Linked DNA regions of Homo sapiens. The protein of the gene in region 1 purifies or fractionates together with the protein of each later gene. This does not show direct contact. Each region holds a gene or a part of one and is shown in the gene's direction. Other genes may lie near its edges.

Region 1 (7,096 bases):
TCCAGGGTGTGCCCCATGTGGGGGCAAACGTGACCCTGAGCTGCCAGTCTCCAAGGAGTAAGCCCGCTGTCCAATACCAGTGGGATCGGCAGCTTCCATCCTTCCAGACTTTCTTTGCACCAGCATTAGGTGAGGACACTACTGGAAACAGTGGACACTGTGGCTGGGGAAGGGGAAAGATGAGAGGTACCACAGGGACTGGGGTGAAAAGGGGAGCCAAGGCTGACAAGCACTGGGGAGGAGGAGGAGGATGTGGGGAGGATGTGGGGCAGAGAAAGATGCCCTGCCAGGGGCAGGTATTGTGTTAGGTGCATTCACATGTGTATACTGTTATGAAACAGGCTCTACAGCTGGAGTGTCTGTGTTCAAATTCCAGCTCTTCTAGTGACTAGCTGTGTGACTCGGTGCCTTCTTTCCTGAATTTGTAAAATGCGGATTTTACACATATCAGCTTGAACTCATTAGTGTGACTTGAACACACCAGTTATAAAAAAAAATTTTAGGGATAACTGAAACATTTTTAATATGAAGTATTCGATGATTTTAGATAGTTACGTTATTAATTTCCTAGGCGTGGCAATGCTATTGTGGTCATATGGAACGACGTACTGCTTTTTTGGAGATTTATGCTGATGTATTTACTTTAAAATATCTAAGTAAAAGAAAGAAATCAAATAAATATGGCAAAAAGTTAGCAACTGTTGGATCTAGGTTGTGGGAATATGGATTTTCATTTTGCCTCTTTCTACTTTTCACATGACCATTTTTATAATAGTAGCTTTTTCTTTTTAAAAATACTACTTATTACCTCACAGGTTTGTTGGGAAATTGTGGTAAGTTCATACACATCAAGAATCTAGAGCAGTCTTTGGCACAGAGTTAGCAGCCAATAAACATTCACTGTTTTATTTATTTATTTATTTATTTTTATTTTATTATTATTATACTTTAAGTTTTAGGGTACATGTGCACAATGTGCAGGTTAGTTACATATGTATACATGTGCCATGCTGGTGTGCTGTACCCATTAACTCTTCATTTAGCATTAGCTATATCTCCTAATGCTATCCCTCCCCCCTAAACATTCACTGTTATAATGATTAGTCCATATAGTCCTTTCAACACCCTCAGGGAGGTCATATTGTCCCCATTTTACAGATGAAGAAATGGAGACCCTCAGATATCAACTAACTTGCTTAAAGTCAGTCACATGGCCTGTTCTGGAACCCACGTTTACCAGTTCCTACCCCAGTGTTCTTTCTCTCTCATCACACTGTCTTGCCGAAATAAAAGTAAAATGGTGTTTTGGTTTCTCTGTGCTTCACTTTCTCTGTGGCCTCCTGTCGGATATCCACTGGGGGCACTGACTGAGGAGTGACAATGGAGGTTATTGCACTAGTCAGTCTGCAGCTGGGAGCCAAGCCCAGCTGTCACACCTCTCCCCCCATCAGGGAATAGACAAGCCGTGACTCCCAGAGGGTCAAAGGGGACATTCCAGAGGAGGGACAAGATTTTTTTTTTTTTTTAATGGGAAAGAGGGTCCCTGGACTGATGGCTAAATTGTGTCCACAGATGTCATCCGTGGGTCTTTAAGCCTCACCAACCTTTCGTCTTCCATGGCTGGAGTCTATGTCTGCAAGGCCCACAATGAGGTGGGCACTGCCCAATGTAATGTGACGCTGGAAGTGAGCACAGGTCAGTGAGGGGTAAGTGTGGTTAAGAAGAGTGGTCAATGGTGGGGGAGGGGTTGCAAGTGGGGAGGAGGCCTGTCTGCTGAGGCCTGTCTCTGTAGCAGGGCACGGAGCTTCCCCTGATCAAATGTTTGTACAAATGGTTGGTCAGTGACTGGTCATTTCCTGCTCAACAGCCACCCCTCTTCTTGACAGGGAAAAAGAGGGAATGTGTATGGTGGCAGATGGGGTGGGGAGAGTGGGATTGGAGAGGGGTGAGAACCCCTCAGCTGGGTGTCCTCCTCTGACACGACGCCTTTTCCAGGGCCTGGAGCTGCAGTGGTTGCTGGAGCTGTTGTGGGTACCCTGGTTGGACTGGGGTTGCTGGCTGGGCTGGTCCTCTTGTACCACCGCCGGGGCAAGGCCCTGGAGGAGCCAGCCAATGATATCAAGTAAGTGTCCCTGGTGTCTGCTGCAGCGGGGGCTCTCCCAGCTCTCCTCACAGAGGCTGGGAATTCAGGCAGCTCTCATCTATTGGGATGGGGTCAGTGGCTGAAACATCATTCCTATGGGCAGGTTTTAAGGGAGAGGGAAAGGAGTACTGAAGTGTGCAGGCAGAGGTGGTATATAAGACCAAGCAGGTAGAAACTCTCTCCTCCTTCCCCCACCCACTTCTGACCTCTTGTTATTTCTTTGATGACTAGGGAGGATGCCATTGCTCCCCGGACCCTGCCCTGGCCCAAGAGCTCAGACACAATCTCCAAGAATGGGACCCTTTCCTCTGTCACCTCCGCACGAGCCCTCCGGCCACCCCATGGCCCTCCCAGGCCTGGTGCATTGACCCCCACGCCCAGTCTCTCCAGCCAGGCCCTGCCCTCACCAAGACTGCCCACGACAGATGGGGCCCACCCTCAACCAATATCCCCCATCCCTGGTGGGGTTTCTTCCTCTGGCTTGAGCCGCATGGGTGCTGTGCCTGTGATGGTGCCTGCCCAGAGTCAAGCTGGCTCTCTGGTATGATGACCCCACCACTCATTGGCTAAAGGATTTGGGGTCTCTCCTTCCTATAAGGGTCACCTCTAGCACAGAGGCCTGAGTCATGGGAAAGAGTCACACTCCTGACCCTTAGTACTCTGCCCCCACCTCTCTTTACTGTGGGAAAACCATCTCAGTAAGACCTAAGTGTCCAGGAGACAGAAGGAGAAGAGGAAGTGGATCTGGAATTGGGAGGAGCCTCCACCCACCCCTGACTCCTCCTTATGAAGCCAGCTGCTGAAATTAGCTACTCACCAAGAGTGAGGGGCAGAGACTTCCAGTCACTGAGTCTCCCAGGCCCCCTTGATCTGTACCCCACCCCTATCTAACACCACCCTTGGCTCCCACTCCAGCTCCCTGTATTGATATAACCTGTCAGGCTGGCTTGGTTAGGTTTTACTGGGGCAGAGGATAGGGAATCTCTTATTAAAACTAACATGAAATATGTGTTGTTTTCATTTGCAAATTTAAATAAAGATACATAATGTTTGTATGAGATAAGAAACAAGTTGCCTTTTCAAACTAAGAATTCTTGAAATTGAGCTTCAGGAGGATGCAAAGTGGACCCCTTCCCAAGCTGTGTACCCAGGAGGGCTTCCCCCCACAGGCTTAGAGCAGCTCTTCTAGTGTTTAGAAGGGTCCTTGTTTGTCACGTGGAGAAGGGGAGGAGACTCTAAGCTACTCTGAACAGCAGAGGGATGGAGTTGATACGCTTTCTGCTGGAGCTTGAGTGCTCCCGGCTAGGGGGTACGTGTACCTCATCTGCTTCCTCTTCAGGGACAGGGGAGAGGAAGCTCACGTGGGCTCCTCTCCCACACCACGGAATCCTTAACAAAACACTCCTTGCCCATCTGGAAGAGATCTCTGTTGTTACTGAGGGAGAGCTGGGCATAGTATGAGGTGCAGGTCTGTGTCCAAGTTCTGCCATGTTCTTTCCTACCAAGGGTGAGGTCTCCTTTAGGTCTCAGTTTCTCTGCCCCTAAAATGGAGTGGCTCTGGAAATGGAGAGATGCTCATTTCTACAGAGACTCCTACCTCAGTAAGTGGTGAAATGAAAAGCGCTGTGGACAGGAAGGGTCTGCGGCCTGGGGCTCACACTCACAGTGAGGCTCCGAGGTGGGGACTCCCCTTGCCAGCTCTGGGGTATCAGGACGCCTTCCAAAGTCAGCTTTCCTTCCGTCTCTGCAGAAGGCCCACCCCAAGCCCAGCGCTTTTCCCAAGGCCGGACAGCTTCAGACCTTGGGGAGAAGAGGAAGGAAGGAGGAAGAAGGGACAGAGGGATTGCAGAATCGGGGCTGGAGGAGAGGAGGGAGGAGCACTTTTTTTTTTTTTTAACCTGCGGCGCCGGCCTCTCCCCTGTTTGCTCTGAGATACCAGTCTCGCTCCTGCCCAGCCCGGGCGGCTGCCCTTGGGTGCTCCCTTCCCTGCCCGACACCCAGACCGACCTTGACCGCCCACCTGGCAGGAGCAGGACAGGACGGCCGGACGCGGCCATGGCCGAGCTCCCGGGGCCCTTTCTCTGCGGGGCCCTGCTAGGCTTCCTGTGCCTGAGTGGTGAGGAGGGGCCGGGCGGGACCACGGCGAGGGCTGGGGGGCATAGGCCTGGCTTCCCCGGCTCCTCGGACCCACTCTGTCCCCGCCAGGCCAGATGAGGCTGCCGTGGGCGCCAGGGGCCCTAAGGCGCCTGAGGTGAGGCCGGAGAGGGGGTGTCCAAGGCCCGGAGGGCGTAGGAGAGAGACCCCCAAGCCGGCGAGCGAGTTGGGCCTCTCCGCGGCACAGGCCTGAACCACCCCACCGCAGGGCTAGTGTTTTCCTTTCTCTGCTAAACACACACACCCTCTTACCTGGCCCGGTTCCGGCTCTTTTACCCACAAAGACCCGGCCCCTCCCGGAAACCTCAGGTTTTGGGAAGGGAGGGGTTGGATTGAGGGGAGAGGGTTGTGCTCTGGGGAGGGAGCCCCCAGCTTCCAATATAGATGCCCGGGGGTGGGCCCGACCCTCCAGATCACTGGAATTTGGGTTCCCACCTCCCTCTGGTCCCCGGCCCCAGGGCTGGCCGTGGAGGTGAAGGTACCCACAGAGCCGCTGAGCACGCCCCTGGGGAAGACAGCCGAGCTGACCTGCACCTACAGCACGTCGGTGGGAGACAGCTTCGCCCTGGAGTGGAGCTTTGTGCAGCCTGGGAAACCCATCTCTGAGTCCCATCCAGTGAGCTGAGAGCGACTGCATGAAGCTGGGTTGGCCTGGAGGGACAGGAGCCCAGGATGAGGGCATGGGGTCGGGAGGGGGAGTTTGGGGATCAGTATGCTTGGATGAAAAGGTAAGTGGGCTCTCCCTAGATCTTTTCAGAGCTGCAGTCTGCCTGACCGTGTATCTTCCTTTCCTCTTCCATAGCTCCTATTTCCAACTCCCCTGCCTTAGTGTATCCATTGACACTAAGGTGTTGTGACTGATACCAAGATAATATGCTGCCTCTTCTGCCTCTCTCTTTGAGAGAGAGAGAGAGAGACCAATGGATCAGGTTCATTTAGCACCTGAAAGGGGGTGGTGTTTGGGGACAGAGAGACCTTTGGAGTTCCAGCTTAAGGGTATCAGCCTCCCTGGCTGATGTAAGTCAGAGGCCTCTTATACCCACTTTGATGAGGAAGGACTGTAGAGTTGATGCCAGGCAGAAACAGGCACATATGTGTGTCTTCTGCCTCTCCCCAGATCCTGTACTTCACCAATGGCCATCTGTATCCAACTGGTTCTAAGTCAAAGCGGGTCAGCCTGCTTCAGAACCCCCCCACAGTGGGGGTGGCCACACTGAAACTGACTGACGTCCACCCCTCAGATACTGGAACCTACCTCTGCCAAGTCAACAACCCACCAGATTTCTACACCAATGGGTTGGGGCTAATCAACCTTACTGTGCTGGGTAAGGCAGACTGGGGATCCACGAGCCACATACTCTTTCACATACTTGGGGCGTTTGCACTGGTCTTGCTAAATCTCTGGTTTCTGACTTTTAGCCCAAGCACACAACTGCACTGGGGGCCCCAAGTGAAAATACTCCCTTTCCAAGTCTTCTAATTCAGATGGTCATACTCCAACTCCACCCTCCACCGAGAGCATCTCCTCCATCAGAGCCTAATAACAGAGTGTGTGAGAGAAAGTCCTTCCCATACATGGGGATCTGAGCCTGCTCCCAGCAGCTCCATCATGGGGGAGGCTCTCATCGGTAGTTGGATTCTGTCCCTCCCAAGGTCAATGGCAGAGAAGGGGAGTGGCCACCAAAGGAACAAGGGCCCCTATTACTGAGCACCAACTTCGTGCTCAGAGCTTCTGTCTCACCCCAAACTAGAGCCTTTTCAGAGATGAGCAACCAGAAAAACTATCACAGAGACTGGCAGTGTTTAGATGGAAAAGAGAAGGCCTCGGATGGGTGTATTACTGCTGGATTCAACTATCCAAAGGGCTGTCATGTGGAGGAGAGATTTTAATTTCTCTTTGTGGGCCCAAAGGGCAGGAACTGAAACCAATGGGTGGAGGTTATGTTAACACACATTTTGGCTCAACATGAAGAAGAATTTTCTCTAACAATCAGAATTTCCAATAGTGGAAATCCCTCAGTTCCTGGGGATGCAGTGGTGTGTGGACCCAAGAGGACCACTGTTTGATAGGGGTATTGAAGTAGAGAATGTAGCACCTAATGGAGTTGGGAGTGGGGCTGGAAGATTGCTGAGGAACTTTCTGTTTTTTTTTTTTTTTTTTTTTTTTTGCAGTTCCCCCCAGTAATCCCTTATGCAGTCAGAGTGGACAAACCTCTGTGGGAGGCTCTACTGCACTGAGATGCAGCTCTTCCGAGGGGGCTCCTAAGCCAGTGTACAACTGGGTGCGTCTTGGAACTTTTCCTACACCTTCTCCTGGCAGCATGGTTCAAGGTAAGGGCCCAGGGCATCAGGAAGAGGGTACTGGAGACCTGGGCAAATCTGGTCTCTAAATCCCACACACCCGTATTATCCGTTCCATGACTAGGGGTATGACACAAACCACTATACCTTTCCCTGTCTCTTCCTTGGCTTCCTGTATTGTTCCCTCCTGCCTGTCTTTCTGCAGTCTGTGGCTGCATGATCCTGGGGGTATTTCTCAAGCTGAATATACTGCTGATATCCTGGAAGAGAGTAGAGGGCAGGGAGCAATCTGATGATGACCACCCATCTGCCTTGGGGAGATTTCTTTTAGGTTTCCTAAGGGTCGTGGACCACTTCCAAACTTCCTAGAGAGGAAACTGAGGCAGAGTAGCATGGACTGGCTGGAATCTTTTAACCAGTTTCTTTGGAGGAGCCTTAGTTTCTTGGCTTCCTCTTCCTGGATCCAGTTCTCTCTCCAGCCCCAGCAAACTCCTTTAT
Region 2 (7,024 bases), on another chromosome or scaffold:
GGTCTCGAACTCCTGATCTCAGTTGTTCCGCCTGCCTCGTCCTCCCAAAGTGCTGGGATTACAGGCATGAGCCACCGCACTCGGCCTGCCGAACACATTTAAAAATGTAAGTTTATGCTTTTTCACTAAACTGATAGTTTTGAGAAAAAATATGTAGTTTATCCAGATTTGGTTTTAAAGAGTTGGGCTTCTTTCTAGTGTTTCACTAAACCCTGGGGTATATAAGAAATTATGAAGTCAATATATTTGATTATATACTTACAGAAGATGTCGGTACTTTGAAGTATAGTTTATATGACTATGTTTCCCTAAAATTGGGTCTAGGGCAAGTTGGAAGACCGGAAGCCCTTGATGGTCTTATTTGGAGATGTTGCCATGCATTATATACTCTCCGCCGCACAGTGAGTATCTTTACTTTTCAGTGTGTTTTCTAATTTCTTTGTCATTTTTCTATCTTATTTGGATTTATCTGAAGTTCTTTTTTTTTTTTTTATTTTGAGATGGATCTCGCTCTGTCACCCAGGCTGGAGTGCAGTGGCGCGATCTTGGCTCACCACAACCTCCGTCTCCTGGGATCAAGCGATTCTCCTGCCTCAGCCTCCCGAGTAGCTGGGATTACAGGCGCACCACCATGCCTGGCTAATTTTTCTATTTTTAGTAGAGACAGGGTTTTGCCGTGCTGACCGCTCTGGTCTCAAACTCTTGACCTCAGGTGGTCTACCTGCCTCAGCCTCCCAAAGTGCTGGGATTACAGGAGTGAGCCCCTGTGCCCACCTGAAGTTCTTACTTAAATGCTAGCTGTCAATCGACAGTGTTTTTGGATAAGAAAATGAGGCATTGGCCAGATGTGGTGGCTCACACCTGTAATTCCAGCACTTTGGGAGTCCAAGGCAAGTGGATCACTTGAGGCCAGGAGTTTGAGACCAGCCTGGCCAACACGGTGAAACCCCATCTCTACTAAAATACAAAAATTAGCCAGACCTGGTGGCGCACGCCTGTAATCCCAGCTACTCAGGAGGCTGAGGCAGGAGAGTATCTTGAACCTGGGAGGCAGAGGTTGCTGTGAGCTGAGATCACACCACTCTACTCCAGACTGGGCAACAAAGTGAGACTCTGTCTCAAAAAAAAAAAAAAAAGAGAGAAAATGAGGCAGTCATGGCTGAATGTGCTAGCTAACATTTGTAACCTCAGCACCTGGGGAGGCCAAGGCGGGAGGATTGATTGAGTCAGGAGTTTGAGACCAACCTGAGCAACATGGCAAGAGTCCATCTCTACAAAAAAATACAGAAATTAGTCGGGTGTGGTGGTATGTGTACTTGTAGTCCCAGCTACTCAGAAGGCTGAGGTGGGAGGGTCACTAGAGCTGGGAAGTCCAGGCAATCGTGAACCATGATCATGCCACTACACTCCAGCCTGGGCAACAGACTGAGACCTTGTCTCAAAAAAATAGTTTTTAAAAGTTTATAAAGTTAAAAAGTTACAGTAAGCTAAAGTTAATTCATTATTGAAGAAAGGAAGTTTTTTTTTTTTTGAGATGGAGTTTCGCTCTTATTGCCCAGGCTGGGGTGCAATGATGCGATCTCAGCTCACTGCAACCTCTGCCTCCCGGGTTCAAGCGATTCTCCTGCCTCACCCTCCCAGGAAGCTGGGATTACAGGCATGCACCACCATGGCCAGCTAATTTTGTATTTTTAGTAGAAACAGGGTTTCTCCCTGTTGGTCAGGCTGGTCTTGAATTCCTGATCTCAGGTGATCCACCCACCTCAGCCTCCCAAAGTACTGGGATTATAGGCATGAGCCACCGTGCCCGGCTGGAAAATTTTTTAAATAAATTTAGCGGGCCAGGTACGCTGGGTCATGCTTGTGATCACAGCACTTTAGGAGGCCAAGGCAGATGGACCACCTGAGGTCAGGAGTTCAAGACCAGCCTGGCCAACATGGTGAAACCCCATCTCTACTAAAAGTACAAAAATTAGCCGGGCGTGGTGGTGCATGTGTGTATTCTTAGCTACTTGGGAGGCTGAGGCAGGAGATCGCTTGAACCTGGGAGGCGAAAGTTGCAGTGAGCCAGGATTGTGCCCCTGCACTCCAGCTTAGGCAACAGAGTGAGACTCCATCTCTAAATAAATAAATAAGTTTAGTTTAGCCTAAGGGTACAGAATTTATAAAGTCTACAGTAGGGTCCAGTAATGTCCTAGGCTTCCACATTCACTCACCACTCACTCTGGACCCACCCAGTACAGTTTTCTGTCCTGCAGTCATTCATGGTAAGTGCCTTCTACAGGTATACCATCTTTTATCATTTATACCATATTTTTACTGTACCTTTTCTGTATTTAGATACACAAATACTTACCATTGTGTTACAGTTGCCTGCAGTATTGGCTACGGTAACATGCTATAGAGGTTTGTAGCCTAGGAGCAATAGGCTATGCTATATAGCCTAGATGTGTAATAGGCTATTCCTGTTGTGTAAGTTTGTGTAAGTACACTCTATCATGTTCAAATGGTGATAAAATCACTTAACGATGCATTTCTCAGTACACATCCCCAGTCGTTAAGTGATGCATGACTGTAAGGGCTTCCATGTACTTTCTTCCAGTTGCTCTAGAAAATACTAAAGCAAGGCCGGGCCCAATGGCTCATGCCTGTAATCCCCATATTTTGGGAGGCCAAGCCGTGAAGATTGCTTGGACCCAGAAGTTCAAGACCAGTCTGGGCAACATGGCAAGACCTCATCCCTACAAAAAATCAAAATGAAAATAAATTAGCTGCGTATGGTGGCATGCGCTTTATAGTCCCAGCTACTTGGGAGGCTGCAGTGAGAGGATCCCTTGAAGCCCATTAGTTTGAGGCTTCAGTGAGCCATATTTGAGCCACTGTACTCCAGCCTAGGTGTGACAGCGAGATCGTGTCTCAAAAAAAAAGAAAAAATATTAAAGCATTTCTTGATAACATGTTTCTTACCAGGAAGTCAGGCAGAACTATATATTATAAGTAGTTGAATCTGTTGCAACACCATCTTTTTGATACTCTTTACTTTTGGTCCCAAGGAGAAATGAAAAGGTATGAGGCACATGTGTTTTACTTAAAATCTCTTACTACCCATTCTAATACACATTTTTCATGGCTTCCTTCCCTGTAGAGACTGCAGCACTGTTTTAAGGGATCCTGTTAATTAAATGAATAACGTTTTTTGGGTAGTTACTATTTTTAGGTCCAATTCTTAGTTCCATAGACATCATGACACTCATACTAAGTGGTGTCCCGTTTCTGTTTGTGCTGTGGGTGCCATACCACAACCATGGTTCATAAAGCGGTGATTCCAACCCAGGTAGTCAAACTCCAGAGATTGCATTGGACACCATAATACCATCCTGTCCTTCAATGTTCCTAAAGCCTAGGCCTCGTTTACCCCAAGGTCCTTGCCTTTTATGTGATACTGTCCTCCTCCAGAAGACAGCTAATATAGTTGCTTTTCACACTCATAGTTATTAATTGCTGTTTGTGTGAATAGTCCTATATCATTTTAGGTCAGGTTTTGCCACCAAATAAGTTAAAAAGATTTTAAAAAATTTTTAATTTAGCAAAGCTATTGGAATTCTGCTGAATTACAGACCTAACTAAATGACTTGGAGAAATGAGACACAAAGTGATGTTTTTATTACAGCCTTTTTAATTTTGTTGGTGATATAAGGAATTCTCATCTTACAGGACTGCTGATGGAGGAGGTTTGGTAGAAAAACACTACGTCTTTCTGAAGAGGCTCTGTCAGGTGTTGTGTGCGCTGGGCAATCAGCTGTGTGCATTGCTGGTGAGCTAGTGTTTGCTTTCTGGAGAGCTTCAAGCCCATTTGGGAAGAGCATTTAGAAACTTATGTTTCAATGAGGGGTTGCAAATGTCATTGATTTTAGCCTGATGGGGCAGTGCCATACAAGTTATTGCATGATTCTATAGATTAAATTATCTTAATAGAATAGTGTTTGAGTGATCTAAATTTCTTTTAACAATAAAATAGTTATACCAACGTCAGATATCCACGTCTATTATTCCATAAAGTCAACGTTGGTTTCTTGTGAATTTTGGTACTTACAGAACCTCAATCTGCTGAGTGCTTTATGCTTTTACATTCTGTTAGCCCACGAAACATGGACTTGAATAAAGAACTCTTTTCCCAATCTAAGGGATGTATTATTGGAGCACAAAAGAAAACTTGAGTCTGATTGACCTGGAAAACCTGCCATTAGAGAAATATTTAATACTCAGTCTTATAAGTTGGAAGATAGGACATTGGAACAGACATTTGCAATTGATGTTATATCTTTTTGTGGTGGTTTAAATGGTTAGAGAGGATAGTTTCAGAGATAAGCAACCATTGAGGGGGCCAGGTGCAATGGCTCATGCCTGTAATCCCAGCATTTTGGGAGGGTGAGGTGGGCAGATCACCTGAGGTCAAGAGTTTGAGACTAGCCTGGCCAACATGGTGAAACCCTGTCTCTACTAAAAATACAAAAATTAGCCAGGCGTGGTGGTGCATGCCTGTTATCCCAGCTACTCGAGAGGCTGAGGCAGGAGAATTGCTTGAACCCTGGAGGTAGAGGTTGCAGTGAGCCGAGATCGTGCCACTGCTCTCCAGCCTGAGCAACAGAGTGAGACTCCATCTAAAAGAAAAAAAAAAGAAAAGAAACTATTGAAGGGATTAGGTAATAGGTTGGGACACAGAGATGTGAATAGGTAAGGTCTGAGGAAGTAATACAGATTTTTTTTCTTTCTGTAATTTCTGAAATGAGTGTTTTTTATTTTACTGTTTGACCACAGAATGGGTTTTAATGATGATGATTGAGTAGGCAAAGTAATGATGATGATTGAGTAGGCAAAGTAACCTATATTTTAGCCCTTGAAGTGATGCCTTTCTTTAGCCAAAAGGAAATACAAAGTCCTTTTGAAACAACATTTTTTGAGGGTTTAATTTATCTGTTTTTATTACTTCCCTGCTTTTTCCTCTCCTGCTTTTCTCGATCAACACCGTTAATATAGTGGTCTTCTCCTACAGGGTGCAGATTCTGATGTAGAAACACCATCAAACTTTGGAAAATACCTGGAATCTTTTCTTGCTTTCACAACCCATCCAAGTCAGGTAAACTTTATACAGGTAACTTCTCAAAAGTTTAGTTAGGTGAACCAATGTCAAGCACTGTGTCCTGAAATATTATTGTAGATCATGTATAAAATGTGACTCTTCAGGCCTTGGGGAATGACCGTAGTGTCATTTCATTAAGAGAATTATTGGCTCTTCTTCCTGAGCCAAACAGTGCACTTGTCTAGGTCAGCAGCTTTTCCCTTTAGGTAATATTCTGATTGTACTCAGTCACATGTGAGGTGTGTCCCAGGTGGTTTAGTACTAAAGTTATAAAGATTTTTGAAACAAAAGTCTGATTAATTGTATTATAAAATTAATTTCACTCTGTTCAAAATTGTCCTTCTAATATCACTCTGAGATTCCAGTATCCTTTTTTGCAAAGAAGAGAAAGTAGTAAAATTCAGCTCACATTCCAGGTAATTTCCTTGATCCACAGCCTGTCTTACTAACATGTGGTCCATAGTGGGTGGTCATTACTGATAAATTGCAGTAGAGACAGCTTCAAAGTATTGTACAGATTTATTTCTATGAAAAAATGTAGTTGATAACTGCTAAGTAATAATCTGGGTTATATAGAATCCAAATCCTTTGACGTTTTCTTTTTTTTTTCTCTTTAGTTTCTACGCTCTTCAACTCAGATGACTTGGGGAGCCCTCTTCAGGCATGAAATCCTGTCCCGTGATCCTTTGCTATTAGCAATAATACCAAAATATCTTCGTGCTTCCATGACTAACTTGGTCAAGGTATATAATGGGAATCTAAACATGTGGAATGTAGGTGAATACACATAATAAGACTTTGAGGCTGGGTGCGGTGGCTCACGCCTATAATCCCAGCTCTATGGAAGGCTGAGGCGGGAGGATCGCTTGAGCCCAGGAGTTGGAGACCAGCCTGTGCGACATGGCAAAACCTCGTCTCTACTAAAAATACAAAAAAATTAGCAGGGCATGTTGGTATGCACCTGTAGACCCAGCTACTGGGGAGGCTTAAGGTGGGAGGATCACCTGAGCTTGGGAAGTTGAAGCTGCATTGAGCTGAGATCGCAGCACTGCACTCCAGCCTAGGCAATGAGAGTGAGACCCTGTCTCGGGGGAAACATAAAAAAGACTGATTGGCATTATTAACAGCCCTTCTTCATCACTAAGATTCCTTTACTGGACATATTTTCTTATTCCTTAGGAAGAAATCAGTCCTTACTGGTTATTATAACTGCTCTTCCATATGAGAGTACTTAATATATCATAAGTATTGGGCTAGGTGCTAGGGCAAGAGCAGTGACCATACAATGTAATAATTGCTATTCAGGGGTTAAAAGCAGAATGCTTTGGAAGTACATAGGAGGGTTGAGTCAGGAAGATTCCAAGAGGAGGCAATATCTAAGCATTGCTTCTGGAGGCCAAGTGAGAGTTACAAAGGGAAATGAGGGGAGTGAGAGTGGAAGCAAAGATTGCTCACTACCTCAGTAGAGAGTTGCTCATGAATTCCCTGCTAAGAGCTCTTGCAGTTGACAGATTGTTAATCTCAATTTGTAACATCAGAGAATGGTGCACATTCAAGGGTCCCCTTATTTTCTTAAGGAATTTGCCTAGCACATAGCACACACTGGTGTTCTGTGTTTTTTTTTGAGACGGAGTCTCACCCTGTCACCGAGGCTGGAGTGCAGTGGCACGATCTTGGCTCACTGCAACCTCTGCCTCCTGGGTTCAAGCAATTCTCCTGCCTCAGCCTCCCAAGTAGCTGGGACTACAGGTGCCCACCACCACACTTGGCTAATTTTTTGTATTTTAGTAGAGACAGGGTTTTACTGTTTTTCCCAGGCTGGTCTCAAACTCCTGAGCTCAGGCAATCCACCCGCCTCGGCCTCCCAAAGTGCTGGGATTACAG
Region 3 (7,024 bases), on another chromosome or scaffold:
CTTTCCAGATGGCATGGTACTATTAGTGTGTAGTTGTGTAGTCTCTGAGTTGGGTTGTTTAGCCTGTTATGAACCCGTTGATTTGTTAAGTATCGATAAAAGCAAACTCAAGAGAATAGCATTAAAAAAATATTTTTTTTCATTTTTGCAGAAATCAGGACACGGTAGTACCTCCTCTTAGTCTAATGAGTCACTGAGGTTAGTTTGAAGTATTTTATCTTTGGAAAAACTATCCCAGTTTTTTTGTGTGTATGTTCACTAAAAGGAAAGTTTGCTGTATTTTAAAATACAAAGACTGAGTCATAGTAGGTAAAATAACTTCAGTCAGTAATAAGCTTCAGCTTAAAACATTTTTCTTCTTCAAATCAGAAATTCTTAGACAGTGATTCTCATTCTGGAGCAGTTTTGCTCCCCAGGGGACACTTCACAGTGTTTGGAGACATATTTTGGTTGTCAGAACTTGGGAGGGAGGAGGGTGCCACTGGCATCTAGTGGGTAGAGATGGGGATGCATGAAACATAATGCATAGGATGATACTGTTCAACAAAGAATGAACCCAGCCAAAAATCATAGTGCTGAGGTTGAGAAACCTTACATTAATGCCTTAAAGTCTTCTTTCTTGCAGTGACTACTATTAATTCTATTTAAAATGGGTGTAAAGAAGAAGAAAGAAATGCAAGTTGCTGCGCTGACCATTTGCCATCAGGACCTTGAAACTTTGAAATGTAGGTGACTTCTGGTTTCCCTTATTATATTTTTTTCTAGTTTGCAAGCAGAGTATTTTAATGACTGGGACCCCTAGCATATAATATTCAAATTCTTTATATTTTTCCTTATGTTTTGGATGTAAAACAATTTTCTTAAAATTCTGTCTTCAGACTATGTTCCACCTATTGCTATGGTTTATAATTAAAAAATTTTGTAGAATGCACAACAAAGGCAAAGTTAACTCACTGTTAAATCATTGAAAATTTTTTTTTGTATATGTTATATAGCTTTTGCTGATGTGGAAGGGAAAAATCTAGCTTCTTTGCTGTTACATTGTGTGCAACTCACGGATGGAGTGTCACAAATCCATTATATTAAACAGGTAAGTCTGAATTGATATTCATGGATGCATCTTTAAGAGTATCATGCTATTAAGGATTTAAAAAAAATCACTGACAGTTTTTGGTCCCTAATTATTGCATATCAGTTTATCATTAGCAAATAAGTATTTTTTTTTTTCTGTTTATTGTATAATATCCTTGTATTCAAAGCAGCAATAGAAGCCATATTCAGACTTCTATCATAATTGAACTGTAAACAGATAAGGTAGAAGATAATGTGCATACCTCTTTTGTGGAGATAAATTTTAAAATATATGAATCTTCAAAACTTTTTAGCAGACACATTTAAAAGTTAATTTAAAATATAAAGATTATACTTATTAGTATTTCAGTATTAGGATTTACCATTTGAGCACACATAGTTTTTTTTTTTGGAAAGCAAGTAAATGTATTACTGGTTTTTTAATAGTGCTACAGCTGTTCTTTACTGTAAGCCATTAACAGGTCTGTGATTCTCTGTGGAGGTGGGTCTGGAGGGTAAAGAGGGAGGTGGGGACATGAGTTTAAAAAGTTAATAAATAGTGAAATAGGTGTTTAAATCAGTATCCTTGACAGTGGAGTATGGAAAACATTTCACGTAATTGACACTTTGTTTTATTTATTTTTTTGAGATAGGGTCTCACTCTCTTACCCAGGCTGGAGTGCACTGGTGTGATCTTGGCTCAACCACAGCCTCAACCTCCTGGGCTCAAGCAATCCTCCTGCCTCAGCCCCCTGAGTAGCTGGGACTACAGGCATGTGCCACCATGCCTGGCTAATTTTTGTATTTTTTTGTAGAGACAGGGTTTCACCATGTTGCCCGAGCTTGTCTCGAACTCTCCTGGGCTCAAGCGATCTGCCCACCTCAGCCTCCCAAAGTGTTGGGATTACAGGGGTGAGCCACTGTACCCAGCAATTGAGACTTCAAAGAGTATCTGTAACCATGTTACTTTGCTATATTTGATATTATAAAAATTACTTCAATGTTTTGTATTATAGATTGTGCCTCTGCTGGAGAAAGCAGATAAAAATGGCATGTGTGATCCCACTATTCAAAGTTGTTTGGATATCTTAGCAGGCATTTATCTTTCTTTGAGTCTAAAGAATCCCTTGAAGAAAGTATTGGCAAGGTAAGAAAAAAAGGAAGGGAAGTTGGGTGTTATAAATGTTGAATTTGACCAAAAGTAACTGAAGTTCCTTCCTTGGTTTGATAAAACTGAACTGATACAGATCACAAAAAGTTCATTCATATGGTTTGTTCTCTGTTTCATTGATTAGTTACAACTATTTTTTTTTTTTTTTTTTTTTTGAGACGGAGTCTAGCTCTGTCGCCCAGGCTGGAGTGCAGTGGTGCGATCTTGGCTCACTGTCAGCTCTGCCTCCCGGGTTCACGCCATTCTCCTGCCTCAGCCACCACACCCGGCTAATTTTTTGTGTTTTTAGTAGAGATGTGGTTTCACCATGATAGCCAGGATGGTCTTGATCTCCTGACCTTGTGATCCGCCTTCTCAGCCTCCCAAAGTGATGGGATTACAGGTGTGAGCCACTGCGCCCAGCCTAGTTACAACTTTTTAAAAGTATAAAAAGCCTTCTTAGGTCACATGCTTAATAAACAGGCTGTGGGCTGTAGTTTGCTTACTCCTGCCTCAATCCATTTACATTTATTGGTTATGTTTAAATGTCATCTTGCTGTTTTTTCCTCTTTTTGTCCTATCTGTTCTTGGTTTAAATATATATTTACACAGATAACACAGGAATATAGGCTTGGTATAAAAATTTCAAATGATATAGAACTATACAAAATAAAAACTAAGGCTTCCATTTCATTGTTTAGGGCTTATCTTACTTTTCTTAGTAAAGATTGTCACTTACCGTTTTGGTATTTATCTTTCTAGACCTTCTCTTTGAGGTCAGCATATGTGTGTTACATTCTACTTTTTTTATATATATCTGTAAACGAGATTATACTCTACAGAATGCTCTGTAGCTTGTTTTTTCACTAAAGAATGTCTTAGAGATATTTCCATGTCATAAAATCCTAATTGTAGTAAAAGACATATAACATAAAAACTCAGTCTTAACCTTTTTTTTTTATGAATTCTTTTTTTTTAAATTTTAATTTTCATTTCGATAGGTTTTTGGGCAACAGGTGGTACTTGGTTACATGAATAAGTGGTGGTTTCTGAGATTTTGGTGCACACATCACCTGAGCAGTGTATACTGTACCCAACAATTTGTAGTCTTTTATTTCTCACCCCCTTCCCACCCTTTCCCCTGAGTCTCCAAAGGCCATTGTATCATTCTTATGCCTTTGCATCCTCATAGATAAGCTTCCACTTATGAGTGAGAACATATGATGTTTGAGTCTTAACCATTTTTAAGTGTACATAGTTCGCTATTGTTAAGTGTATTCATATTGCAGTGCAATGATCTCTAGAACCTTGTCATCTGCTAAGCTCTGAAACTGTATACATTAAGTAACAACTCTCCATTTCCTGCTCAGCCCTTGGCAGCCACTTTCCGTTCATAAATTTGATTACTTTAGATACCTCATATTAGTGTAATATTTGTATTTATATTTTTGTGACTGACTTATTTCACTTAACATAATGTCCTTAAGGTTCATCCCTGTTATAGCATATGACAGGATTTTCTTCTCTTATAAGGCTTAATATTCTGTTGTATGCATATACTGCATTTTTTTCATCCATGCATCTTTCAATGGACATTTGGGTTGCTTCCACTGCTTGCCTGTTGTGAATAATGCTGCTATGAACATGGGTGTGCAAATATCTATTTGAGATCCTGCTTTCAGTTCTTTGGATATATACCCAGAAGTGGGATTGCTGGACCATATGGTAATACTATTTGTAATTTTTTGAGCAACTGTCATACTGTTTTCCATATGCAACATTTTACATTCCCACCAGCAGTCCTTACTTTTTCAGCTATAAATATTCTGTAATATGAATATACCAAAATTTAAATGTACCATATATATGACATGTATGTATCTATATATGGTACATATTACATGATTTATATTACATGGTATAAAGTAATTTAATCACTTCCCCATTGCAGTGATATTCTTATGTATATAATTATATATGTGTATTTCTCTGAGATAAATTCCAAGAAGTGGAATTTCTGGACCAAAAATTAGGCCTATTGAAATTCTTGGTAGATATTGTTAAATTGTACTCCCCCAGACTACCCATTGAATTAGAATGCTTGTTTCTTCTTCATATATTTCCAACATTGGATACTATCAATCTTTAAATCTTTTAAAATCTAATGAAGGAAAATGCTATCATTATAATTTGTGTATCCCAGATTACTAGTGTAATTGAACATTTTTTAATGTGTGGAATTTGACTTTTTTTATTACATATTCTTTGTACATTTTCTTGTTAGAATGTTTTCTTGATTTATAAGACTTCTCTATAGATCATATGCCAAATACATTCCTTTGTTACTTGTCTTTAACTTTCTCATGGTGTCTTGTCTTTACAAAAATTAAAATATTATTTTGGTTATCAATTCAGCTAATTTTTGTGTATGTAGATTTCTGAGTTTTATACCTTGCTATATGTGCTTTCTGTAATACAAGATTATTTAAAACATTATTTGCAGGCCTTATACTATTTTTTTTTTTTTTGCTCAACTTTTATGTCCATCTGGAATTAAGCTTTGAATGTAGTGTGAGGTAGGGATTCAATTTAGTTTTCTTTTTTATATGGGGAACCACTTACCCAAACTGTTGAATCGTCCATCTTTGCCCACATATTTGGAATGCCACCTTATTGTGTTATATGTTCACATATATACATGGGTTTGATTTCTGAGTTAGGTCCAATTATTCATACACCAACACCACACTTTTATTTACTATAGTTTGATAAAGTGTTTTAATTATATGTCAGTGTTAAGTCATCCCTCTAGTGACTCTTCTTATTCTGAATATTCCCATTTTTGAATTATTTTCTTCCAGAAAAACTTTGAACTGTCCAGTTATATTTAAAACAAAGCCAATCAGTTTTGATGTATATAAATTGAGGCAAAATTGATATGTTTAATTTACTCATTTGATAAATTTTTATTGACTGCCTACTGTGTTTCAGCACTCTTCTAGGAACTGGGGGTAGAATGAATGAAACAGTCCAGAATGGAGGTTACATTCTAAGGGGAAGATAGAAAATAGACAAAATAAATAAGTAACATTTATAGGATATTAGATGGCATGAGTGCTATCTAAAAGCGGGAAGGAAGGAAAGGGGACATAAAGGATGGGGTGAGGGTTACAATTTAAAATATTATGGTCACTTCATATAGCTTTGCTCAGACATGATAAGGTAATTGAGATTGACCTGAAAGGGATGAGGCAGTGATTGCTGGGTATATTTGAAGGAAGAGTATTTTGGATGGAGGAAACAGCAGAAGCAAAGACTGGTATGTCAGAACAGAGCAAGGCCATGTAGCTAGAGCTAAGTGAACAAAGATCAAGATGAGGTCAGGATTGTGATAGATGCCATTTTAAAAATCAAGAAAAGAAAAAAAATAAATAAAGATGAGGTCAGGAGCTAATGGTAGTGCCAGATTGTATCGGGAGGACCTTGTAGGTCACTGTAAACACTTCAACTAGTACTTTAACCGAGAAGGATATTGTTGGAGGTTTTAGTAAGAGAAGTGACATGGTGTTTTAACGGTGTCACTCTGCCTGTTCTGTTGAGAATAATCTGGGAGATGGGAGAGAAGCAAGGTGGAAGCAGGGAGACCAGATGTGCTGACAAGCCAGGAAATTCGAGTGATGGTAGTGTGTAGTTGTAGTTTTCTGGCTGTATTTTGAAGATTTAGTTCAGTATTCCCACATTTGTATGATTCTCTTCCCTCTCCACATATTCTGGGGCTATTAGATTGTCAGATTTTTAATATTTGTTTCTTTTTCTAGCTCACTAAATAGCCTGCCTGATTTTTTTCTACCTGAGGCTATGCACCGTTTTACTTCTCGTCTTCAGGAAGAATTGAATACTACTGACTTATACTCTTACAGGAAAGTTACTGACAATATTTCTTCCTGTATGGAGAACTTTAACTTGGGTAAGGCTGCACTTTTCTAGTCCTTTTTCTGGCTAACCCCTCTCATCACATCATAGTTTTTAAATGACATTGATTTTGGTCGTGAAACTCCTTACCAGTGTTCATTTTTTCCTCTACAGGTAGAGCAAGTGTTAATAATCTGCTTAAAAATGGTAAGTCCTATTATTTTATTTTGTTCCATGAGTTGATGGCTTGTATGAGTCATTTTGGAACTGGCTCTTTTAAGTTTCTTGGTAATAGGTAGAGCATTGTAGATAACTTAGGTACATCATGACCCTTCCTTTTAAATTTTTGTTTCCATATCATGATATCATTTTGGATAACAGTGATATAAAATATTTTATTTTATTGAAATTGAGCTTCACAGTTTTAAATTCTTATTTGTCATATTCTTTTTGTTTCAGTGCTTCATTTTCTGCAGAAGAGTTTAATTGAAATCCTGGAAGAAAATAGGCAAGTGCTATATGTTGGCATTTGTGTGTGCACACTTGCAGTTGTACATTATCTTTGTACAAAGAAAAATTTAAAAGTCTCAGAATGTGATCTTTTCATCCCTTTTCATTAATATTATCACTTTTATATTTTTTTTGAGATGGGGTCTTGCTGTGTCACCCAGGCTGTAGTGCAGTGGTGTGATCATAGCTCGCTGCAGCCTCAACCTCCTGGGCTCAAGTGTTTGTATCACCTCAGCTTCCCACGTAGCTGGGACTACAGGCATGCACCACCACACCCAGATAGTTTTTTTTATTTTTTTGGAGACAGAGTCTCACTATGTTGCCCAGGCTGGTCTTAAACTACTGGACTGAAGTAATGTGCCCGCTTTAGCCTCCCGAAGT
Region 4 (7,413 bases), on another chromosome or scaffold:
AGATGGAGTCTCACTCTGTCACCCAGGCTGGAGTGCAGTGGTGCAATCTCGGCTCACTGCAACCTCTGCCTCCTGGGTTCAAGCAATTCTCCTGCCTCAGCCTCCTGAGTAGCTGGGACTACAGGCGCCTGCCACCATGCCCAGCTAATTTTTTTTTTTTTTTTTTTTGAGATGGAGTTTTGCTCTGGTTGCCCAGGCTGGAGTGCAATGGTGCAATCTCGGCTCACCACAACATCCGCCTCCCGGGTTCAAGCGATTCTCCTGCCTCAGCTTCCCAAGTAGCTAGGATTACAGGTATGCGCCACCACACCTGGCTAATTTTTTGTATTTTTAGTAGAGACGGGGTTTCTCCATATTGGCTAGGCTGGTCTCAAACTCTCGACCTTAGGTGATCCACCCACCTCGGCCTCCCAAAGTGCTGGGATTACAGGCATGAGCCACCATGCCCAGCCTCATTTTTGTATTTTTAAGTAGAGATGGGGTTTCACCAGTTGGCCAGGCTGGTCTCAAACTGCTGACCTCAAGCGATCCATCCACCTTGGCCTCCCAAAGTGTTGGGGATTACAGGTGTGAGCCACTGTGCCCGGCCAAAAGGTGCTCTCTTTTGCTGGATTTGAACAGGGAATTTTGTGGCCCTGGCTGTTCCTGGCAACCACCTTGACAACAAGTCTGATAATGGAGAAGAGCAGAGCAAGGAAGTCCTAGAGGAATGGCCGGGCGTGGTGGCTCATGCCTGTAATCCCAGCACTTTGGGAGGCCGGGGTGGGCAGATCACTTGAGCTCAGAAGTTGGAGACTAGCCTGGGCAACACAGTGAGACATTGTCTTTGCTGAAAAAAAAAAAATCAGCTGGGCATAGTGGCGCACACCTGTAGTCCCAGCTAACTGGGAGTTTAAGGTGAGAGGCTTGCTTGAGCTTGGGAGGTCGAGACTGCAGTGAGCTGTGATTGCGCCACTGCACTCTAGCATGGAGAACAGACTGAGACCCTGTCTCAAAAAAATAAAACAAAACAAAACAAACAAACAAACAAACAAACACACACAAAACCACACACAGAAAAAAAAGAAAATCCTAGAGGAATGGATCTAGGCCTCCCATCACACCCAGCCAAAAGCTAATGAATCTCTGGAAGTCCAGTTATGTAACCCAAAGGCATACCCTTAAGTGAGTCAGTTGCATTTCTGTTATCTCATTCAATTTTACAGTAAGGAAACCAAGACTTCGAGAGTCAATAACTCAAGATACCTTAGCTAGTGAAGTTAAGAGCTGGATTCCACTCCAAATGAGTCTCAACCCAAAGCTTTCACTCATCCTACTAAACTAAGCCAAGTAAGTGACTTGGCCTCCATTCCGATTCATCAGCTTACCTACTGAGATGGCTTCTCTTGTACATGCTGTTTCTACTGCCTGGAATGTTCTATGCCCCCTCTCTTTGCCTAGCAAACTCCTGCTTCTTTAAGGCCAAAGCTTAAAGAAATGTCACTTCCTGACTTCCTCCCCATCCTAATCTGCCAGATTATTTTAGATCCCTTGGCCTTATTAGCGTGTAAACTATATTAAAGTTATATCATGTTAGTTTCAATTTTTCCTTCATTGCTCTTATCACAATAACTGATCCATTATTGTACAATATTTTACAAATAATTTGTCTTTAAATTCCATAAGGGCACACATATATTTGTTTTGCTCAGCATTGAATCCTTGAAATAGTGACTGTCACTTAGTGGACAACAATAAAGATTTGATAAAATAAATGTGCTTGAGGCTGGGCATGGTGGCTCATGCCTGTAATCCCAGAACTTTGGGAGGTCGAGGTGGGCGCATCACTTGAGGTCAGGAGGTGAGACCATCCTGGCCAACATGGCGAAACCCCGTCTCTACTAAAAATACAAAAATAAATTTAGCTGGGTGTGGTGGCAGGTGCCTGTAATCCCAGCTACTTGGGAGGCTGAGGCAGGAGAATTGCTTGAACCTGGGAGGCAGAGGTTGCAGTGAGCCGAGATTGCACCATTGTACTCCAGCCTGGGCAACAAGAGCGAAACTCCCTCTCAAGAGAAAAAAAAATAGTGCTTGATGGCCTGGCGCGGTGGCTCATGCCTGTAATCTCAGCACTTTGGGAGGACGAGGCGGGTGGATCACCTGAGGTCGGGAGTTTGAGACCAGCCTGACCAACATGGTGAAACCCCGTCTCTACTGAAAATACAAAAAATTAGTTGGGTGCGGTGGTGGGCTCCTGTAATCCCAGCTACTTGGGAGGCTGAGGCAGGAGAATTGCTTGAACCCAGGAGGCGGACGTTGCGGTGAGCCGAGATCATGCCATTGCACTCCAGCCTGGGCAACAAGACCGAAACTCTGTCTCATTAAAAAAAAAAAAAAAGTGCTTGAGGCTGGGAGTTTGAGGCTGCAGTGAGCCATGATCATGTCACTGCAACAGAGTGAGACCCTTTCTCCAAAAACAAACAAACAAACAAACAAACAAAAAACTAAAAAACCCCTGAAAGCTATTGCTTTCAGTGGTAAAGTGTTGTATCAGTGGTTCTCCAAATGTGGTATCTAGACCTGCAGCATCAGCTTCATTTGGGAGCTTGTTAGAAATGCAAATTATTCAGCCCCATCTCAAACCTACTGGATGGGAAAGTCTATGAGTGGAGCGAGTAATCTTTGTTTTAACAGTCCTTCTGGGTGAATTGATTCAGATCACACTGAGGTTTGACAGGAAAGAAAAATAGCTCAGGGAAGTCTGAGTTATGTGAAGTATGCAAAATTTGTCAGGTCCACTGAGACTTGTGTATGGGAGTTCGGGCACACTCCCACCTCCACATGCTCGGGGACAATTGTTTAAAGATATTTTGTTCCAGACTAGCTGCCTCCCCCATTTCCTTCAGGTTCCTGAAATTTGTGATACAAAGAACAATGTATAGGCAATAGCTTATGTTATTTTTTCCCCCTTTCTCATCATTCCTATTCAACCTTATGTTATGCCTCTTTTTTCCTTAGAAACCCACTTGAAGCCAGGCGGGAGGGCTCACGCCTGTAATCCCAGCACTTTGGGAGGCCGAGGCTGGCGGATCACCTGAGGTCGGGAGTTCAAGACCAGCCTGGCCACTATGGTGAAACTCCGTTTCTACTAAAAATAAAAAAAATAGCCGGGCATCATGGTGGGTGCCTGTAGTCCCAGCTACTCGAGAGGCTGAGGCAGGATAATCGTTTGAACCCGGGAGGCGGAAGTTGCAGTGAGCTGAGATTGCACCATTGCACTCCAGCCTGGGCGACAAAGCGAGACTCCGTCTCAAACAACAACAACAACAAACTACACTCTAGTCTGGGCGACAGAGCAAGACCCTGTCTTAAAAACAAACAAACAAACAAGGAAACCCCATTTGTAACTGCCACTAATTGGACTATACTTCTGGTGGGCCATCTTCAAGCTTCGGGCTTGAATAAACCCTATACTTAAATACTATTTTCTCAATCTCGTTATTTAAGGTTGACAAGGGCCATTGGGTTACATAGATTTGCTCCAATCTATGTAGTAGGCACACCCGCGGGCTCAACCTCAGCTGTTTGGGATAGTTTCCTGACTGTTTCTTAAAATTAGCACTTTCAGCCTGGCTGGATGACTCATACCTGTAATCCCAGCACTTTGGAAGGCTGAGGCAGGAAAGCTGCTTGAGCCCAGGAGTTCCAGACCAGCCCAAGCATCAAAAGGAGGCCTCACCTCTGCAAAAAATAAAAAAATTTAGCTGGGCATGGTGGCGCACCAGGAGGTTGAGGCTGCAGTGAGCCATGATTGTGTTACCGCACTCCAGCCTGGGCAACAGAGCAAGAACCTGTCCCCAAAAATAAAACAAAATAAAGATGAGCACTTTCACGAGTAAAGTGGATTGGAGGATGGGAACAGGAATCCAACACATTCTCTGCCTCTCTCAGCACCTTGGCTATCGAAGTTACGTTTATCTCCCCTGTCCTAGCATCCACAGCAGGGCCTGGAATATAGTCGGGCAAGAGTGTGTGGACTGCATGAATGTAAGCTCCATAGGGCCGCGTGTCGTCACGCTGCCAGCTCGATGCTCCGCCCGTAAAAGGCACTCACTAAAATTTTAGCGGAATGAATGGGCGAAAAAAGCGAAAGGGAAACCACGCCTTTACTAAAATGGCAGCCCGGGCTCCCTTTACCAAGATGGCTGCCGGCCCGCGTGGACGCACGGGCGGTGGGCGCAGGGGGCGGGGCAAGAGAGGGCGTGGTAAGAAGGCGGGGCCAGTGGGAGCCGTCAGGTGCAGCCCCGCCCTCCGCCCTCCGCCCGCTCCCCCCGCTCGCCCCGCTCGATTCCGGATTGGTCCGGTTCCAGCGCCGCAGCCCGGCGGCCGCGCTGTGGGGCCGCCCGGCGCTCGCCACTTCCGGCGCGTTGGGGCTGTTGGTCGGGGGCGGCCGCGCGGTACTAGCGGGCGGCTCCAGGGCGGGCGCGCGCAAGGATGCTCTAGGGGGCGGCGGCAGTGGCCGTGTGGGTTGAGGCTGCGAGGACAGCGCGGGCCCCCGGGCCTCTCCCCTGAGCCGGCCGCCTGGGCCGCGCGGTCGAGGCCTGTCAGCCTCCGCCCGTTCAGCCTCGGGGCCGGGGCCGCCGCCACCTCTGCCCGCGGAGGCCGGGGAGCCCCTGCCTGGGCCCGCAGCCTCCCCCGCGGGGGTCGGGCCCGGGCGGGGGTCCCGAGCAGCTGCCCTCCTCGCCGGCATCCGAGCCTCATTTCCTGCTTTTTCAGTTTCCTTGGGGAGGGGCGGGTGGGTCTGGATGAATTGTCTCGGGGTCCCCCGATGAGGCGACCCGGGCGGCCCTGCCCTTTTTAGAGGGTCCCCTCGGGGCCCGGTGGGGAAGGGGTTGTCTTTGCATGGGTGGGGGACTTCCCGAGTCTGCCGGGACCATGACCTGAACTGTGCGAGCGGGACGTGTCCGAAGCCCAAGAACCAGCTCATCTGAGCCGCCCCCTCCCCGGCCAGCATGGTAAGTGGAATTGGAGCCCCCTTCCCTCCTGGGGTGCCCTACCGGAAGGGTGGGAATGGGCCCCGGGGCTGCTGAGCCATCGCTGCTCTCCCCATGGCGGGGAGAGGCGCGTGCGGAGCCTGGCCGGTGACACATGCGTGCAGAGTGTGCAGCCCCGGCCCTGCGCTCCCATCCCCCCAGGGATGATGGCTCAGGCCTGGGAGGGCCCTGGGAGCGCAGCAGGCACAACCCTTGCATCTGGTGTTTGCCTCCTGCAGCTCCTCCGGATAATAACTATCGTTTATTGAGGGCTTACTACTTGCCAAGGCCCTGCGCGAAGTGATTGACAGTGCAGTAGTATTTAATGATCACACCAGCCCTCTGTTCGGAAGTGGGGAGACTGAGGCACGGAGCAATTAATTCCCCAGCTCAAGGTCAAGCGACTTTTTAACAGTGTTAAGATTTGAACCTAGGCATCTGACTTTGAACCTAGGCATCTCTAATACACTTAGAGAGCTGGGTGATTGTAGGAGAAACATCTCATCTAGCTGTAGGTTTATATATGAGGAAACAGAGCGATTTACAGAGGTCACTTGCACAGGTGATGGCAAAGTCAGGAATGGTCGTGATCTTTTGACACTGAGGCTGCTATTCTACATGCTCTGATCTCTGCTGAAGCTACCTTCCACGTTTTCTAGACCGATACTTTCAATACTCCCCTAAATGTGTGTACTCACATCTCTTTGTGTATCCACATCTCCACGTTTTCTAGACCGATACTTTCAATACTCCCCTAAATGTGTGTACCCACATCTCTTTGTTAAGCATTTGCCTTTTTGCTCTTGTAATTATTTCTGAGCCTTATCTGTCTATTGCGGTATACACAGCTCCTTCAAAGACCAAATTGTTTGAACCCTTATCTGCTCCAGCTCCTGGCACATAGTAAGCCCTTGGTAAGTACTGGATCACCTAGCCTGTGGTTGAGCACCTCGAGGAGTGGAGCTGTTCTCCTCAGTTTCACCCATTTTACCCCTGCCAAGTTAGTGGTATAATAGAGAAAGGGACATAGCTGCATCTTTTGTGATACAGACCTTAAGGCCTGTGGAATTTTCGAAACATTCAAGGGGCCTGTGGGTAGTGTGTAGGTCCTGAGATATGGAGCTTACAACCAGCTGGGTAAAGTACACCATTAATGCTGAGCAGCACCGTACAGTATATGCTATACGTATAGTGTATGTGTTTTATTTTTATTTGTTTTGAGACAGGGTCTTGCTTTGTTTCCTAGGCTGGAGTGCAGTGGCACGTTCATGGCTCACTGCAGCCTCGACCTCCTGGGCTCAAGCAGTCCTCCCACCTTAGCCTCCCAAGTAGCTGGGGCTGCAGGCAAGTGCCACCATGCCTGGCTAATTTTTTGTGGAGATGAGGTCTCACCACGTTCCCCAGGCTGGTCTTGAACCTGAGCTCAAGTGATCCGTCCTCCTCAGCCTCCCAAAGTGCTGGGATTACAGGCGTGAGCCACCGTGCACAGCTGAGTCTATGTATTTTAACATATATATTACACAGTATGAATTGTGGCAAATCAGTTAAGCTCTCAGTTCCAATTTCCTCAACTATGAAATTTGGGGATAGGATTTCTCTAAAGAGTAATCTAGAGGTATGAGGTATAACATTTAGTGGCTAATGAAAGTAGCACTCATTCCTTCCTTCATTTATTCTTTCAGTAATGCTTTTTTTTTTTTTTTTTTTGAGATGGAGTTCAGCTGTTGTTGCCCAGGCTGGAGTGCAGTGGTGCAGTCTCAGCTCACGGCAACTTCTGCCTCCCGGGTTCAAGTGATTCTCCTGCCTCAGCCTCCCGAGTAGCTGGGATTATAGGCATGCGCCACCATGCCCGGCTAAATTTTGTATTTTTAGTAGAGATGGGGTTTCACCATGTTGGTCAGGCTGGTCTTGAATTCCTGACCTCAGGTGATCCACCCGCCTCGGCCTCCCAAAGTGCTGAGATTACATGCATGAGCCATCGCGCCCGGCCTCAATATACTTAAGTTTTGTTTTTTAATTGTAGTAAAATATACATAATTAAAATTAGCCATTTTAACCATTTTTAAGTGTACAGTTTAGTGAAATTAAGAACATTCACATTGTTGTGCAACGATCACCACCATATATCTCCAAAGGTTTTTTCCCAAAACAACCTGTACCCGTCTTTTTTCAGTCTCTCCCCTGCCCTACTTTAGTTTCTATTTCTATGAATTTGACTACTTTAGGTAGCTCATGTAAGTGGAGTCATGAAGTATTTGGCCTGTTGTGACTGCCTTATTTCACATGGCACAGTGTTCTCAAGCTTCATCCGTGTGGTGGCGTGTGTCAGAGCTTCCTTCCTTTTGAAAGCTGAATTCCATTGTGAGTATGTGCTGCATTTCATATATCCTTTCATCCTTCG

What was found.
Region 2: the proteins of VSIG2 (region 1) and XPO5 purify together in Homo sapiens (affinity purification with mass spectrometry; 3 studies listed by BioGRID and IntAct, with this or other methods). This does not show direct contact.
Region 3: the proteins of VSIG2 (region 1) and THADA purify together in Homo sapiens (affinity purification with mass spectrometry; 3 studies listed by BioGRID and IntAct, with this or other methods). This does not show direct contact.
Region 4: the proteins of VSIG2 (region 1) and XPO6 purify together in Homo sapiens (affinity purification with mass spectrometry; 3 studies listed by BioGRID and IntAct, with this or other methods). This does not show direct contact.

What each region holds. Positions count from the first base shown.
Region 1 is NC_000011.10:124,749,240-124,756,335, reverse strand, and holds the start of VSIG2 (V-set and immunoglobulin domain-containing protein 2 isoform 1 precursor), read left to right. Parts: upstream 1-4,080; 5' UTR 4,081-4,198; coding exon 4,199-4,259; intron 4,260-4,755; coding exon 4,756-4,913; intron 4,914-5,414; coding exon 5,415-5,622; intron 5,623-6,469; coding exon 6,470-6,628; intron 6,629-7,096. Other genes in the region: ESAM (endothelial cell-selective adhesion molecule precursor), read left to right, coding at 1-129, 1,573-1,695, 1,996-2,122, 2,375-2,690.
Region 2 is NC_000006.12:43,559,037-43,566,060, reverse strand, and holds part of XPO5 (exportin-5), read left to right. Parts: intron 1-324; coding exon 325-401; intron 402-3,653; exon of another isoform or gene 3,654-3,714; coding exon 3,715-3,814; exon of another isoform or gene 3,815-4,661; intron 4,662-5,053; coding exon 5,054-5,137; intron 5,138-5,757; coding exon 5,758-5,883; intron 5,884-7,024. UniProt on the Homo sapiens protein: Mediates the nuclear export of proteins bearing a double-stranded RNA binding domain (dsRBD) and double-stranded RNAs (cargos). XPO5 in the nucleus binds cooperatively to the RNA and to the GTPase Ran in its active GTP-bound form.
Region 3 is NC_000002.12:43,586,018-43,593,041, reverse strand, and holds part of THADA (tRNA (32-2'-O)-methyltransferase regulator THADA), read left to right. Parts: intron 1-151; exon of another isoform or gene 152-198; intron 199-625; 5' UTR 626-649; coding exon 650-725; intron 726-995; coding exon 996-1,090; intron 1,091-2,087; coding exon 2,088-2,218; intron 2,219-6,039; coding exon 6,040-6,188; intron 6,189-6,307; coding exon 6,308-6,340; intron 6,341-6,592; coding exon 6,593-6,641; intron 6,642-7,024. UniProt on the Homo sapiens protein: Together with methyltransferase FTSJ1, methylates the 2'-O-ribose of nucleotides at position 32 of the anticodon loop of substrate tRNAs.
Region 4 is NC_000016.10:28,208,947-28,216,359, reverse strand, and holds the start of XPO6 (exportin-6), read left to right. Parts: upstream 1-4,394; 5' UTR 4,395-4,991; coding exon 4,992-4,994; intron 4,995-7,237; exon of another isoform or gene 7,238-7,373; intron 7,374-7,413. UniProt on the Homo sapiens protein: Mediates the nuclear export of actin and profilin-actin complexes in somatic cells.